Regions from separate parts of the Homo sapiens genome. Here all the other regions are linked to region 2. The links come from fine-mapping of genetic effects on gene expression. A gene starts in region 2. Each other region holds a variant in brackets. All regions are shown on one strand. Distances are from middle to middle. Region 1 overlaps LOC105375180 (a long non-coding RNA gene). Region 2 holds the start of TWIST1 (twist family bHLH transcription factor 1). Region 3 overlaps HDAC9 (histone deacetylase 9).

What was found. PIP is the estimated chance that this variant, and not a neighbour inherited with it, causes the effect.
Region 1: its variant is the best candidate, but not a certain one, in a credible set for the expression of TWIST1 in tibial nerve (GTEx, PIP 0.64).
Region 3: its variant is the best candidate, but not a certain one, in a credible set for the expression of TWIST1 in tibial nerve (GTEx, PIP 0.76).

Annotation. Positions count from the first base shown.
Region 1 is chr7:19,600,771-19,605,014 of GRCh38, forward strand. All of the region lies in intron 3 of LOC105375180 (a long non-coding RNA gene), which reads left to right. Among named protein-coding and RNA genes, the nearest start is that of MIR3146, 100 kb to the right of the region's middle. The variant C/T (reference allele first, on the strand shown) is at 1,881.
Region 2 is chr7:19,115,171-19,119,414 of GRCh38, forward strand. It overlaps TWIST1 (twist family bHLH transcription factor 1), which reads right to left and starts at 2,466. Exons shown (of 2, transcript NM_000474.4): 1 at 1,501-2,466; 2 at 298-961. The coding sequence starts at 2,151. The coding sequence ends at 1,543. RefSeq lists enhancers at 1,473-1,732, 1,756-2,539, 3,613-4,244.
Region 3 is chr7:18,857,352-18,861,595 of GRCh38, forward strand. The region is part of intron 21 of HDAC9 (histone deacetylase 9); the gene reads left to right. Among named protein-coding and RNA genes, the nearest start is that of HDAC9-AS1, 43 kb to the right of the region's middle. The variant C/T (reference allele first, on the strand shown) is at 2,189.

The DNA.
Region 1 (4,244 bases), 490 kb after region 2:
ATCCAATTTGAAACTCTGCCTGTAAATGGGGCCTTTAGACCATTTACATTCAAGGTTAATATTGATATGTGACATTTTGATCCTATTGTGAAGTTGTTAGCTGGTTGCTTTGTAGTTTCTATTGTGCGGTTGCTTTATAGGGTCTACGGACTATGTACTTAAGTGTGTTTTATGGTAGCAAGTATCATTCTTTCATATACATGTTTAGAACTTCCCTAAGGAGGGCTGGTCTAATGGTAATAAATTCCCTTATTGCTTGCTTCTCTGGAAAATATTTTATTTTTCCTTTGCTTATGAGGCTTAGTTTAGTGGGATATGTAATTCTCAGTTGGAATGTATTTTCTTTAAGAATGCTGAAAATAGACCTCAATCTCTCCTGACTTGTAAGATTTCTGCTGATAACTCTGCTGTTAGCCTGATAACATTCCCTTTGTACATTTCTGACCTTTTTCTTTAGTTGCCTTTAAGATTTCTTTCTTTATCATTGACCTTGGATAGTTTGATGACTTTATGCCTTGCTGTTGTTCGTTTCATACAGTATCTCACAGGTGTTCTTTGGATTTATTGTATCTGAATGTCAACATCTCTAGCAAGATTAGGGAAATTTTCTTGAAGTATTTCCTAAAATATGTTTTTGAAATTGTTTTTTCTCCTCTCTCAGGATTGCCAACACTTTATAGGCTTGGTCACTTTATAGAATCTCATATTTCTTGAAGACTTTTCATTTTTTTAATGCTTTATTCTTATTCTTTTTTTTTGTCTGACTGAATTAGTTTGAAAGACGTGCCTTCAAGCTCTGAAATACTTTCTTCTGCTTTGTCCACTCTATTGATAACAGTTTCACTGATATTTTGAAATTCCTTAAATGAGTTTTTCTATTCCAAAATCTCCAATTGCTTTTTTTTAAAGCTATATATCAGTTTATTCATTTCCTGATGGAGACCTAGTATGATCCTTTTTTTTTTTTCAGGTATTACATGGTGCCACAATTCTTGCACTGGTTCCTTTTCATCTGGATATGCTGGCCCTTCTAATTTTGGTAATTATTTTTGTGCGAGGAGAATTTGTTTCTTTCAGTATATTTTTTCCTTTACCTTTCACCCCACCCCCTCCCTTGGGGGTGTGACCTTAGAGAACGTTGATTAGAGTTTTTTGGCTTTGCTTTTATAGCCTTATTCAGGTTTTTCAGCAGGTTTTATATTAGGCTGTATGGTTCAACCTGCAAGTCAATATATAACATTTATGGGTAATAGCCAGCTGAAGCCAACATGGCTAGGTATGTACTTGATTCTTGTTTACCAGGTAGAACTATCTGTTGTCTCAGGCCACAGGCTGATCTGTGGTTTGCACAGAAGTCTGAGCTCCCTGTTCAGCCCAAGGGAGTGGGGCTCAAGATGGCAAGGGTTAGACCGGGCAGGACCACCTACATATTCCCTCATGGCAAGCACAAGCACCAGTGCTGAGAGAGAATCCAGTGGGTGTGCTACCAATCACTCAGAATTATGTCTAGGCATAGAGCTGGGCAACCTACTTAGTTTTCAGTTCTTTGCACAGGTAGTTGGGTGGCCTAAACTGCTATTCCAGGAGGGTAGGCACTCTAGATGCCTGGAGATCTGCCTGAGGGTGGAGTGCAGAGGGCCACAGTGCATCAAAATCTCTGCACAGAAAAAATAGGTGGCACAGGCTACTCATTCAGGCAGGTGGGTGCTCTGAATCACTAGAGATCTGCCTGGGCATGGAGTAGAAAAGGCCCTGGTGCACCGCAGTTTCTATGCAGGAAAGGTAGCGCAGCTCAGGCTGTGAATCTTGTGAGCAGGTGCTCTGAATGCCTGGAGATCTGCAAGGGCGTGAAGAAGAGAAGGCCCCTCTCCCAACCCTGG[C/T]GCCAGGATCTCTGCACAGGAATTGTGGGGCAAGCTGGTCCTTTGAATACCCAAAGATCTGCCTGGGCATGAAGCAGATTGGACCAAACTGCACAATGATCTGTGCACTGGAAGGGTGGGGCTGCTTATCCAGGTGAGCAGGTACTCTGAATGTCTGGAGATCTGCAAGGGCATGAAGAAGAGAGGGACCCTCACCCCACCCTGGATCCAGGATCTCTGCACAGGAATTGTAGGGCAAGCCAGTCCTTTGAATGCCTGAAGATTTGCCTGGGCATGGAGCGGAGTGGACCCCACTGCACAATGATCTATGCACAGGAAGAGTGGGGTGGCTCCAGCTGCTTATCCAAGTAAGCAGATACTCTGCATGCCTGGAGATCTGCCTGGCCATGGAGCAGAAAGGGCTCTACCACACCATGATATATGTCTAGGATGGGTGGAGTGGCTAAGGCTGCTGAACTAGGAAAGTAGTTGCTCTGAATGCCTGGATATCTTCCTGGTCATGTAGTGGAGAGCACCCCACTGCACCACGATGTATGCACACGAAGAGTGGGGTGGCTCAGGCTGCTGATCCAGGTGAGAGTGTGCTGCCAATGCCTAGAGATCTCCTTTTATCACCTGGATACCATCACAGGGGCTCTTTGTCCCTGTTGTTCTCCCTGAGATCTGGGATATCTTCATGATTCTGGTGGATTCGTGTCTTTCTTCTTAAATTAAAACTCAAAAGTTGATCTTCATGTACAATCTTGTTATTTCCAACTGGCTGAGACACACAAAAAGTCTTGACTCCACCATTTTTTAGGGAAAAGCTGTTTTTCATTTAATTCAATGACCACTCAAGAATCATGCATTTTATTTGTGATGTCTGTAATCTTCTATAATCTAGAAGACATCAGCATTTTTTATGTCTTTCTTGAAACTGATATTTTTGAAGAATCAAGGTCAGATTGACACATATTTTGGCCTTGTTAGGTAATTTCCTAGTAAGCAGAAACATTTTTGGCAGAAATTTTATGTTAGTAATATTTGGTCTTTCCCAATTTATCACATTGGGAGTACATGATATCACTCTTCGCCATAACTGTTTATGTTAAGTTTGATTAGTTAAGATACGATTTCTTCATGGTAAAGATTTACTTAGCATTTTATAATTGATAAATACAGTTTCTTCAACGTTTATTAGTCTGTCTTCTTTAAAAAATCATTTACTCAAATTTTCCCTTCCCAATTCATCTATTTTAAAATCAGTATCGATTTGTAGATTTTTTGTGTGTGTAATTCTATTTCTGTAAGTATTTATTTTGAAGCAAAAAATTGTCCCAAATTTGGCCAGTGAAAGACTCTTAATGCCGGTTTCCTCAGGATATGTCTCTGTTAGTTCTCCAGGTTCTTCTTATTTCCTGGCACAACGGGATAGTTGAGGGTCACACTATAACCTTCCTGCTCTCGATCTGGAATCAGCCTTTTCTCCAAGGAGCTCTTGTTCCTTTTAGTGTAAAATGATATGTCAAAAGTGATATTGGTAAGCTAGGAATTATTATTGCTACTAGGGTGCCATTTTGTTAGATCCTTTTTGTAGACAGATACTCCCAATTCCAATTCTAGCACCACAATATGTTTCTTCTTTTTCTCCTATTCCATAATTGTATTTTTTCTTCTACAGCAAAAAAATCCTAATATATTAACAATATCAATATATAATAACTTATTTTCTCAATTCTACAATAAATACAAAATAGTGTTGGAATTTCTGTGTTAGTACCACTGCAAATAATAAACCTAATAAGGAAAGCTCAAGATACCTTAATGTTTTTTGTCCTTAGAATATATACCATTGGAATTATACAGTTAAATTATCATATGAAAAACTTATTTGGATAAATTTTAGTCTTTCTATCTAAGTGAATATGTTATCTCCTTGATACATAGTTATAGGCCGTTTCTGTTTATATTGAATTTTAGGATTTCTTCCCTTTGTTGAAATAGTTTTATTTTTTGCTTATGTAAAATATTAACATGTTTCAAAATCCAATTTCCTTCCCAATCTCTTTCTCTGGATTCTTAATCACTTCTTGTAAGTAAACAATTTTATCAGTGGCTAATTTATCCTTACTGCATGTCTTCTTGAAAAATGAGCATACAGTGATGATAGATATCTAGAAGTAAATATGCAGACATACATATGAGCTTGTGTTCACACAAAAGGTAGTGTTCAATAGATGCCCTTTCCCTGTTGCTTCTGTTTATCTAATGTATACATCCTATGAAATTTCTCAATATCAGTTCATAGACATATTCCTCACTTTTTAAATAATGTATTAGCCTTCCATTATAGGAAATTACCATAGTTTATTCTATCATTCCCAT
Region 2 (4,244 bases):
CAACTATCACCTCAAAATAAAAAGGAGGTGAATAGCAAATTTGTTAAGTTTTTGCTGTTTGGAGACAGTAAGAGATGAAGAGATGCTACTAAGCCCTCTGAATACCAAACTGGAATAATAATAAAGCTGTCTTTTAAAATAACATGCTTGTGCCTGTCAGTAGCTGCTTTATTTGAGTTTTTCATTGCTTTGTTTATATTAGTGCCCCCTCCCTCCTGGGTGCCTCTAGAATTAAACAAGCAGGTATTTACCACCAACTTAATCTTTAGTTTTAAAAATATAGACCAAACTCTAAGGTTCTCTAAATTTTTTATATTTATTTATTGCAGAAAAATATACAAAGATATTTACAAAACAATCATAAAAATATGAATGCATTTAGACACCGGATCTATTTGCATTTTACCATGGGTCCTCAATAAATAAATAGAATGTTGTTTTTTGTATTTTAAGTTTTTTTTTGTTTTTCCCCTCAGAGGAAGGATGAAAAAAAGAATTAACTGACTATGGTTTTGCAGGCCAGTTTGATCCCAGTATTTTTATTTCTAAAGGTGTTCTTATAGTTCCTCTGATTGTTACCATTTTAAAATAGAGAAAGTCCATAGTGATGCCTTTCCTTTCAGTGGCTGATTGGCACGACCTCTTGAGAATGCATGCATGAAAAAAATAAAAATAAAAACATTCTTCGTCAAAAAAAAAAAAAAAAAAAACACAAACAACTGTTCAGACTTCTATCAGAATGCAGAGGTGTGAGGATGGTGCCGCTGCCCGTCTGGGAATCACTGTCCACGGGCCTGTCTCGCTTTCTCTTTTAAAAGTGCGCCCCACGCCCTGTTTCTTTGAATTTGGATTTTGCTCTTCTAATTTCCAAGAAAATCTTTGGCATATATTTTTATTTTTAGTTATCCAGCTCCAGAGTCTCTAGACTGTCCATTTTCTCCTTCTCTGGAAACAATGACATCTGCAAAAACCCAGAGGGGGGGGGGGGAGTCGGTTATTGTTTAGGTCTCTGCGGCTGTTTTCTAAGACTAGTGAGCACTGTTCTTATCACCACCACTGAGAAATTAAGCTGAACAACCTGGAAGGATTTCAGCCCAAGGGCAAGAGGAAGTGGGTGGGTGGAAAGGAGGAGGAGGTGGAATTTGTTTTAAAACATTTGTTTTAAGGAGAACAAAAATTGAAAGCCGAAAGAAAGGGTGGCGCTGACAAAACGGTCCTTACCCGTGACCCTGGGTGTCTCTGTCTCCCCTCCTGTCACGCACACTCACGCGCACACACACCCCTCACCAGGGCGCATCCCCCTGGAGACTGCTCTCCCTAGCGGGGTCAGACCGGCCTTCCGGGGACGCTGGGGGCGCGAGGCAACGGTGCCAAGTGAGGTGGGAAGGCTGAGCGGAGAGTGGGAGAGGGGAGGAAATCGAGGTGGACTGGGAACCGCGGCCTGGCCGGCCTGCCGTCTGCCACCTGAGAGGCGAAGGGGTGCAGCGGCGCGGTCCTTACCTAGGTCTCCGGCCCTGCTGAGGGGGTGGGGGGCTCCGCCTGCTAGTGGGACGCGGACATGGACCAGGCCCCCTCCATCCTCCAGACCGAGAAGGCGTAGCTGAGCCGCTCGTGAGCCACATAGCTGCAGCTTGCCATCTTGGAGTCCAGCTCGTCGCTCTGGAGGACCTGGTAGAGGAAGTCGATGTACCTGGCCGCCAGCTTGAGGGTCTGAATCTTGCTCAGCTTGTCCGAGGGCAGCGTGGGGATGATCTTCCGCAGCGCGGCGAACGCCTCGTTCAGCGACTGGGTGCGCTGGCGCTCCCGCACGTTGGCCATGACCCGCTGCGTCTGCAGCTCCTCGTAAGACTGCGGACTCCCGCCGCCGCTGCTGCTGCCGCCGCCGCCGCCCGCGCCGCCGCCGCCGCCACAGCCCGCAGACTTCTTGCCGCGCTTGCCCTGGGCCGGGCTGCCCGGCTCGTCGCCGCCTCCGACGCCCCCACCCGCGGCTCCGCCGGGCCCCGCGCCGCCGCCCGCGCTGCGCCTGCTGCTGCGCCGCTTGCGTCCCCCGCGCTTGCCGCTCGGCGGCTGCTGCCGGTCTGGCTCTTCCTCGCTGTTGCTCAGGCTGTCGTCGGCCGGCGAGACTGGCGAGCTGGACACGTCCTGCATCATCTCTCGAGCGGCGACGCGTGGCCTCGCGGGCCCGGGGCAGAGGAGAAGAGCGGGGCGCCTCAGCCCGCCAGCTTCCCCCGCGCGCGGCGCCGGCCCGGGCGATGCGGCCCGCGGAGGAGAGAGCAGGAGGACGGACGGGAGGGACCTCCGCGGGGAGGGCGCGCGGGGGAGGCGGGGAGGGAGGCGGGAGGGGGAGGGGACGGTGTGGATGGCCCCGAGGTCCAAAAAGAAAGCGCCCAACGGCTGGACGCACACCCCGCCAGGCCTCCTGGAAACGGTGCCGGTGCTGCAGAGCCCGCGAGGTGTCTGGGAGTTGGGCGAGAGCTGCAGACTTGGAGGCTCTTATACCTCCGTGCAGGCGGAAAGTTTGGGGGCAGCAGTGTCATTGGCCTGACGTGAGGAGGAGGGACTTTTCGAAGTTTTATAGGAAAGTTTCCGCTTTCCAGTCCCCCTCCCCCGTCCCACCTCCCTTCCTCGGGGTCTAACAATTCGTCCTCCCAAACCATTCAAAAACGACCTGGCCCGGGCGGCCGGCCCCTCCACCCGCCTCCTAGCCGCCCTCCCCCTTCCCTCCCCGTCGCCTTCCTCCGGCGGGCGCGGGGCGATTTCCTTCCCCGCCGGAGCGTGCGGGCAGCGCCCCCGAACCCTAGCGCAGCCCAGGAAGCGGTCGGAGGAGACTGTCCTGGCCGCGGTGGCAGCCCCATCCGGAGTGGCTGTGACAGCAGCAATGGCAACAGCTTCTACACAGTGGGTGATGTCTCATCTCGCCCAAGAGCCCTCTAGGTCCGTGGGGCCGATTTGGGATTGCTGGGGCTGGGGGGGTGGTGTGGCGCGGGGTGGGGGGGCATGCCAAGAAAAGTGTCAACCGCGGAGCCCACCCAATGGTCAGGTAGACGAACCCCTTGGAGTTCCAAAGGCCAAACCGCGGCGGCCCAGCCCGGAGGTCCTGGGCGTTTCTGAAGACGTGGCCGCGCCGCGGGGGCTGAGGATTTGCGTCCCGGCCTGCTCTCTCGCCCTTCTGGGCCCTCCTTTCCCCTCTACAACGACCCAGTCTGACGCTCCCCAACATCCAAAGGACTACGCCTCGGAAGGTGCTCGAAAGAGGCAGAAGTTCACTCTTCGGTGGAAGGAAACCCAGTCCATGGGAAAGGCAGCAGAGCCAGAGGGGGGCAGCGCAGCGCCTTTGCTGCGGCCCTAACAGCTGGCAATGCCAACCCAAGGGAGAGACCCTGTGGCCATTTCATCCCCACCCCCAAATTAGGCTCCGCATTGTGACCTTGAAAGGCCAGCTTGTAAGAGAGTGAAGTGGGAATTTGATAGCGCCTAGACATAGGGGCTGCCCGCTCTGAGACCCCCCCCGCCCCAGCCCCCACTATCTAGGGCATCCAGTGGACAATTAGGCTTCGTGAGCCCCAATTCCAAATGCTTGGATACGCTAACATTTTAAGCATTTCTGTCTGTAAGTTAAAACGAAGAGCCCCAAAGAGGGTGTTAATGTAGATCCTGGCAAACTGGAAGCAGCAAAGTTGGTGAACCAGAAAGGAAGTCGCCTTGGATAAGAAGCCCATCTTTTGCAATGCCATACTTGTTTCCTTTTTGAAATGAATTGAGGTAAAATAACCGTTTCAGGTCCATCCCTTACATGGCAAAGTAAAAAGCTGGAGTCAGTACACAGTGTTGGGGTGGGGGCAGCGTTTGGGGGCGACGAGTTTTGTGCACCGCGCTGGAGTACCCTGCACATAAGGTCCGCTCATGGGCTTCTCAGTACGGACTCGCCGGCGGGAACAATTAATTGAGCAAAGCGCCCCTTTCTGGGCTGGAGCAAGGTTCGCGGCTGCAGATATCTCAAGCTGAAGGCAAGAGCCCAGGCGAGGCGCAGGCAGGCCACGTGGCTGTTCCCTGCTGAGACTCGCAGCTTTGGTCTTGGAAACCTCAGGGTGTGGAGCTGCTTGGGCCGACTGAAGGGTTCAGCTTTTTGGGAGAAGTGAGGGCGAGTGTTATTTCTCCAGCGAGGTGTAAACAAGACTGTGCTTTCATGGGAGGGACAAATTGCAGAGTTGATCCCTTACCATTTTTACAGAAATACTCAGAAA
Region 3 (4,244 bases), 260 kb before region 2:
TGTGTGTGTGTGTATGTATGTATGTACTAGTTCCTGGAGTGAAATGTACTTTTTTGTTTGTTGTGGTTTGAGAATTTTGAAAGCCACTGTTTAAACAGCCAATTAAAATATCATTTTATCTATAAAGTTTTGTCTCTGTTCTCCAGAATAATTAATAAGTTCATTTTCTATGTCCACATTTATAGCTGTAGTTTCTAGAGTAATTATTGTTTTGAACTGGGAGAAAAAAATCAATATCTGTATTAATGAACGCATCCCTTTGAACTGGAAGAAATTTGTTTACAGAGTTGCTTCATCCATGCCATCTGAACTTGTTAAGTATAGGAATCATAGGAATCTGTCCTGACATTATGAAATCTAGCACTTGGCACCTTGGCATTGAGATTCACTGTAGATGTTCAATGAATGTTCCAGGAATAAATTAATAAATGAAAAAATCTATGAAAAGACAAACTTGACAAAGTTGGGTTCAGCTATTTTGTTTTCAAATGGGAATGTGACATTCCCATTTTCAATGGGAATTTGAAAATATTTATCTAATATCTGCTACTTGAAAAGATTTTTAAAAACAAGCTAATTTTTTAAATATGAGGGTACAGTACTGATGTACTAATAACTGTGGAGTATTATTTGGTCTAAAACAAATACACATGCACAAAAGAAAATTAGTTTTCAAATGTTTATCCATTGAAATCTTGGATTCTGCCGGCTGTTTAGTGGTTCATTTAGCATGTCACAGTATCATGACAGCAGTGTCGAAATACCACCATAACATTCCCTTTTCAAAAAATGAAAATAATCAGTGAGAAAGCTAGCTATCTGTGCATATGGATCCACATGGTTGCATATTTGGAAAAATGGATAATCAATGTATTACTCAATTCTTAGGCTGCTGTGAAGAAATACCCTAGACTGGGTAGTTTATAAAGGAAAGAGGTTTAATTGACTCACGTGGCTGCATGTTCTGCATGGCTAGGCAAGCCTCAGGAAACTTACAATCATGGTGGGAGGCACCTCTTCACGAGGCAGCAGGAGAGAGAATGAGTGCCCAGCAAAGGGGGAAGCCCCTTATAAAACCGTCAGCTCTCATGAGAACTCAATATCACAGGAACAGGATAGGGGAAATCACCCCCATGATTCAATTATCTCCACCTAGTCCCTCCCATGACATGTGGGGATTATGGGAACTACAATTCAATATGAGATTTGGGTGGGGACACCAAAGTAACCAAATCAGCTTATGTTAACATTTCCTATCTAGAATGTTTGAATGTACTTTACTCAGAAATTGCTTTCATGCTAATCCAAGTGACAACCCATAGTCTAACTAGTCAGAGTATATTTTTATCTTAAATAATAAAACTACTCTATCATGTCACCATGGAAATTTCGTACTTTGTGGAGTGAACATTGCAGTTGGAATTGTACCTGGAAATAAGTTGCTGCTGAATAAATATTGACAGCAGTGTCTCATTTTTACCATGTCCTGATCTCCTGTGAAGTTTGAGTGGCATACCTACTTCCCTTCTAACTCACAGAAACACTGAAGTGATTGCTTCAATACACATGATATGCCTTCATTGCCTCATTGAATCAGAGCACTTAGAAACACTATTTTTTCATCCAAAAATGCAGTTAAAAGGCAGTGAAATTGTCAAGCTTCCGAGAACGTGATCTTTGGATTCAGACAGATATGAGTTTGAATCCCAAGTCAGTCAGTTATTTGCTGAAACAACTTGACTGATTATCTTACCTTCATTGAGTCTTAGTCTTACTGTCTATAATTGGGATCAAAGTACATAATTTCAAGTATATTGTGATCATTGCAACATTAGAAGGAATGTATAAACTTCTTAACTTCATGCCTGGCACCTAGTACATTGTCAAAATGGTTGATGATTTTGTTGTTGTTGCTAGAAGAAAAGAGTTTCCTTGCCTCCAACATAAACTATTTTTTTAGTTTTGGAATTAATCCTACTCTCCTGTTATTTTAGCTATGAATACATGTAACACTCCTAGATCTTGGGCTGATCTCCTGATTGAGAAGACAGCCTGACTCTGCACTTCAGAACTCTATTCAGGCCCCAAGTTCTTTCTTTCTTCTCAGTCTCTTTCTGGCTATGCCTCAGGGAACAAGTAAAATGTGTTACTAAATGAGCTTGCCTTTTGTCTTGTTCATCTCACATTG[C/T]TACGCAATTAAAAAAAAAAAAAACTTGATGATGCTGCCTTCCTCAGAAAGGCCACATCAAAAGGTAGAGTTAACCAAAAATAATACACACTTTTTCCAAAGACACAAACAGTTCCTTGAAAAGGATGTCATGCTGTAATTTGTTTTGTGAATTCTATAAACCACAGAACATTTACTTACAGTAATGTTTGACCTTTCTTTTTCCTTATTTTTATGCCTACAAAGCTTCTTTTTCTCTCCTCTTGAGAAGAAATATAAAGGCTAACGCTCTCATATATATATATATATATATATATATATATATATATATATATATATATGTGAGAGAATGAGAGAGAGAGAAATATATATGATTTTATTGGAATACTGAATTTAATTTTTAGCCAAAGTCCTTTGGCTTTATGCAATAATATTTTATGGAATGCAATCACTTGTGCAAAGACTAAAGAGAGGCTCATTTGAAACTTTGCAAAAAGAATATGCTGCTCATAGGGTAATGGGAAATGCAATATGTGTACTAAGCTACACACTGCACCCCACCGAAAGGAGAGAAATCCCTATGACTGATTTGATGGTAGTATAATCTCTTTAGGGATTTTTTGGATAAAGAAAGTAATAACAAAAAATAGGCACATAATTAAGTTTCCAAAGTGCACGTGTCACCAGCATCTTATTGTCCCTCTGGAGGGGAAATTTACTAATGACTTGGGTAGACATTTTTCCTGCTATGTGCCCAACTGAGAAAAAAAAATCAGCCTTTCCAAATTTTCTAAATAATTCTCTGCTATGTAAGTTTTAAGAACATTTTACTGTCATTTGTGTTCTATTTTCTATTCATTATGGCAATGTTTTACAACCACCAGGTTGCTATAGAAATGAAAATAAACAAAGATTTGGAAAGATACATGTTGCAGGGGCTTGTTCTGCCTCTCTTGCCTAAACCATGAGGATTATGTTATTCTTTAAATATACTTTCTTCCTTGGTTATCCAGTTGGTCTTAATATAAGGAAACAAAGTTAAATACTTTGTTCTGACTTGTGTCAAATTTTTCTCAATGTCTTAAACTCTTTTCCTGTCCTTTAAGAATAAATTGGGCTAAAAGAGGATAAAATTAGAAGGAAATAAAGGAAAGAAAAAAAGGAAGACGGAAGAAAGGAAGGAAGGAAAGAGGAAGGAGTAATAAGGTAGGCATAAGATAAAACTAAAAGTTGCTATGGAGCTGACCTCCTTGTCAGCACCCACTGGAACTATAAGGAAGGGTGTATTTTATTGAGCAATCACAGGCAATTTTGAAGGGGTTCAAGAAGAATCAGTAGTTCTAGTGCATTATGCTGGCAAAGACCCTTGCCCGCTCTCCACACCCTTGTAGCTCAGCCTCAGTTCTCTAGGATGTGGTCTTTTGTTAATTGGATAGTAGCAGAGCAAAGTCGGGACTACTGATCCTTTCCAGCTCTAGTCCTTACAAATATGGAAAGACTGATTTAGTAATGCTTATGAAACCAAATACATAACAGCCCCTTTATGTTACTGGACTCACATTTGAAATCATAATAAAATATTTCTTGAGAACCACTGTTGCAAACTTAAAGACACATTTTTGGCATATTAAAATTCACGGTATTTCTATGCTTTTATACAATAATGACTGGGAAGGGACATATATAATTACATTCTACATTTCTCAGCAAAAGAGTGTTTACTTCAGTACAATTTTAATATTAACTCTTAATGACTTCTACCAACTCCAAACTAAGCATGTTTCAACATTTTGTTGTTTCTTTCTAGACTAGATTTCAGTACAGAGTTTAACGAAAGCAAAATCTGTTAATTCTGTTGTCATTGTTTTATATATGGTAATTAGATAAGAATCAGTTTATCTGTTTTGATAAACTAGCAATCTTACCATTTTGCCCAGCTCCCTATGCTTGCGTATAGGATTTTGCCTAGGGAGGTGGCATCATTCTCTATTCAGAGGCGTTCCAAATATAATAATATAAATACACTAATACTATTCTCACAGACAATGTCCCAAAGTCAGGAAGAGATACTGTTGAG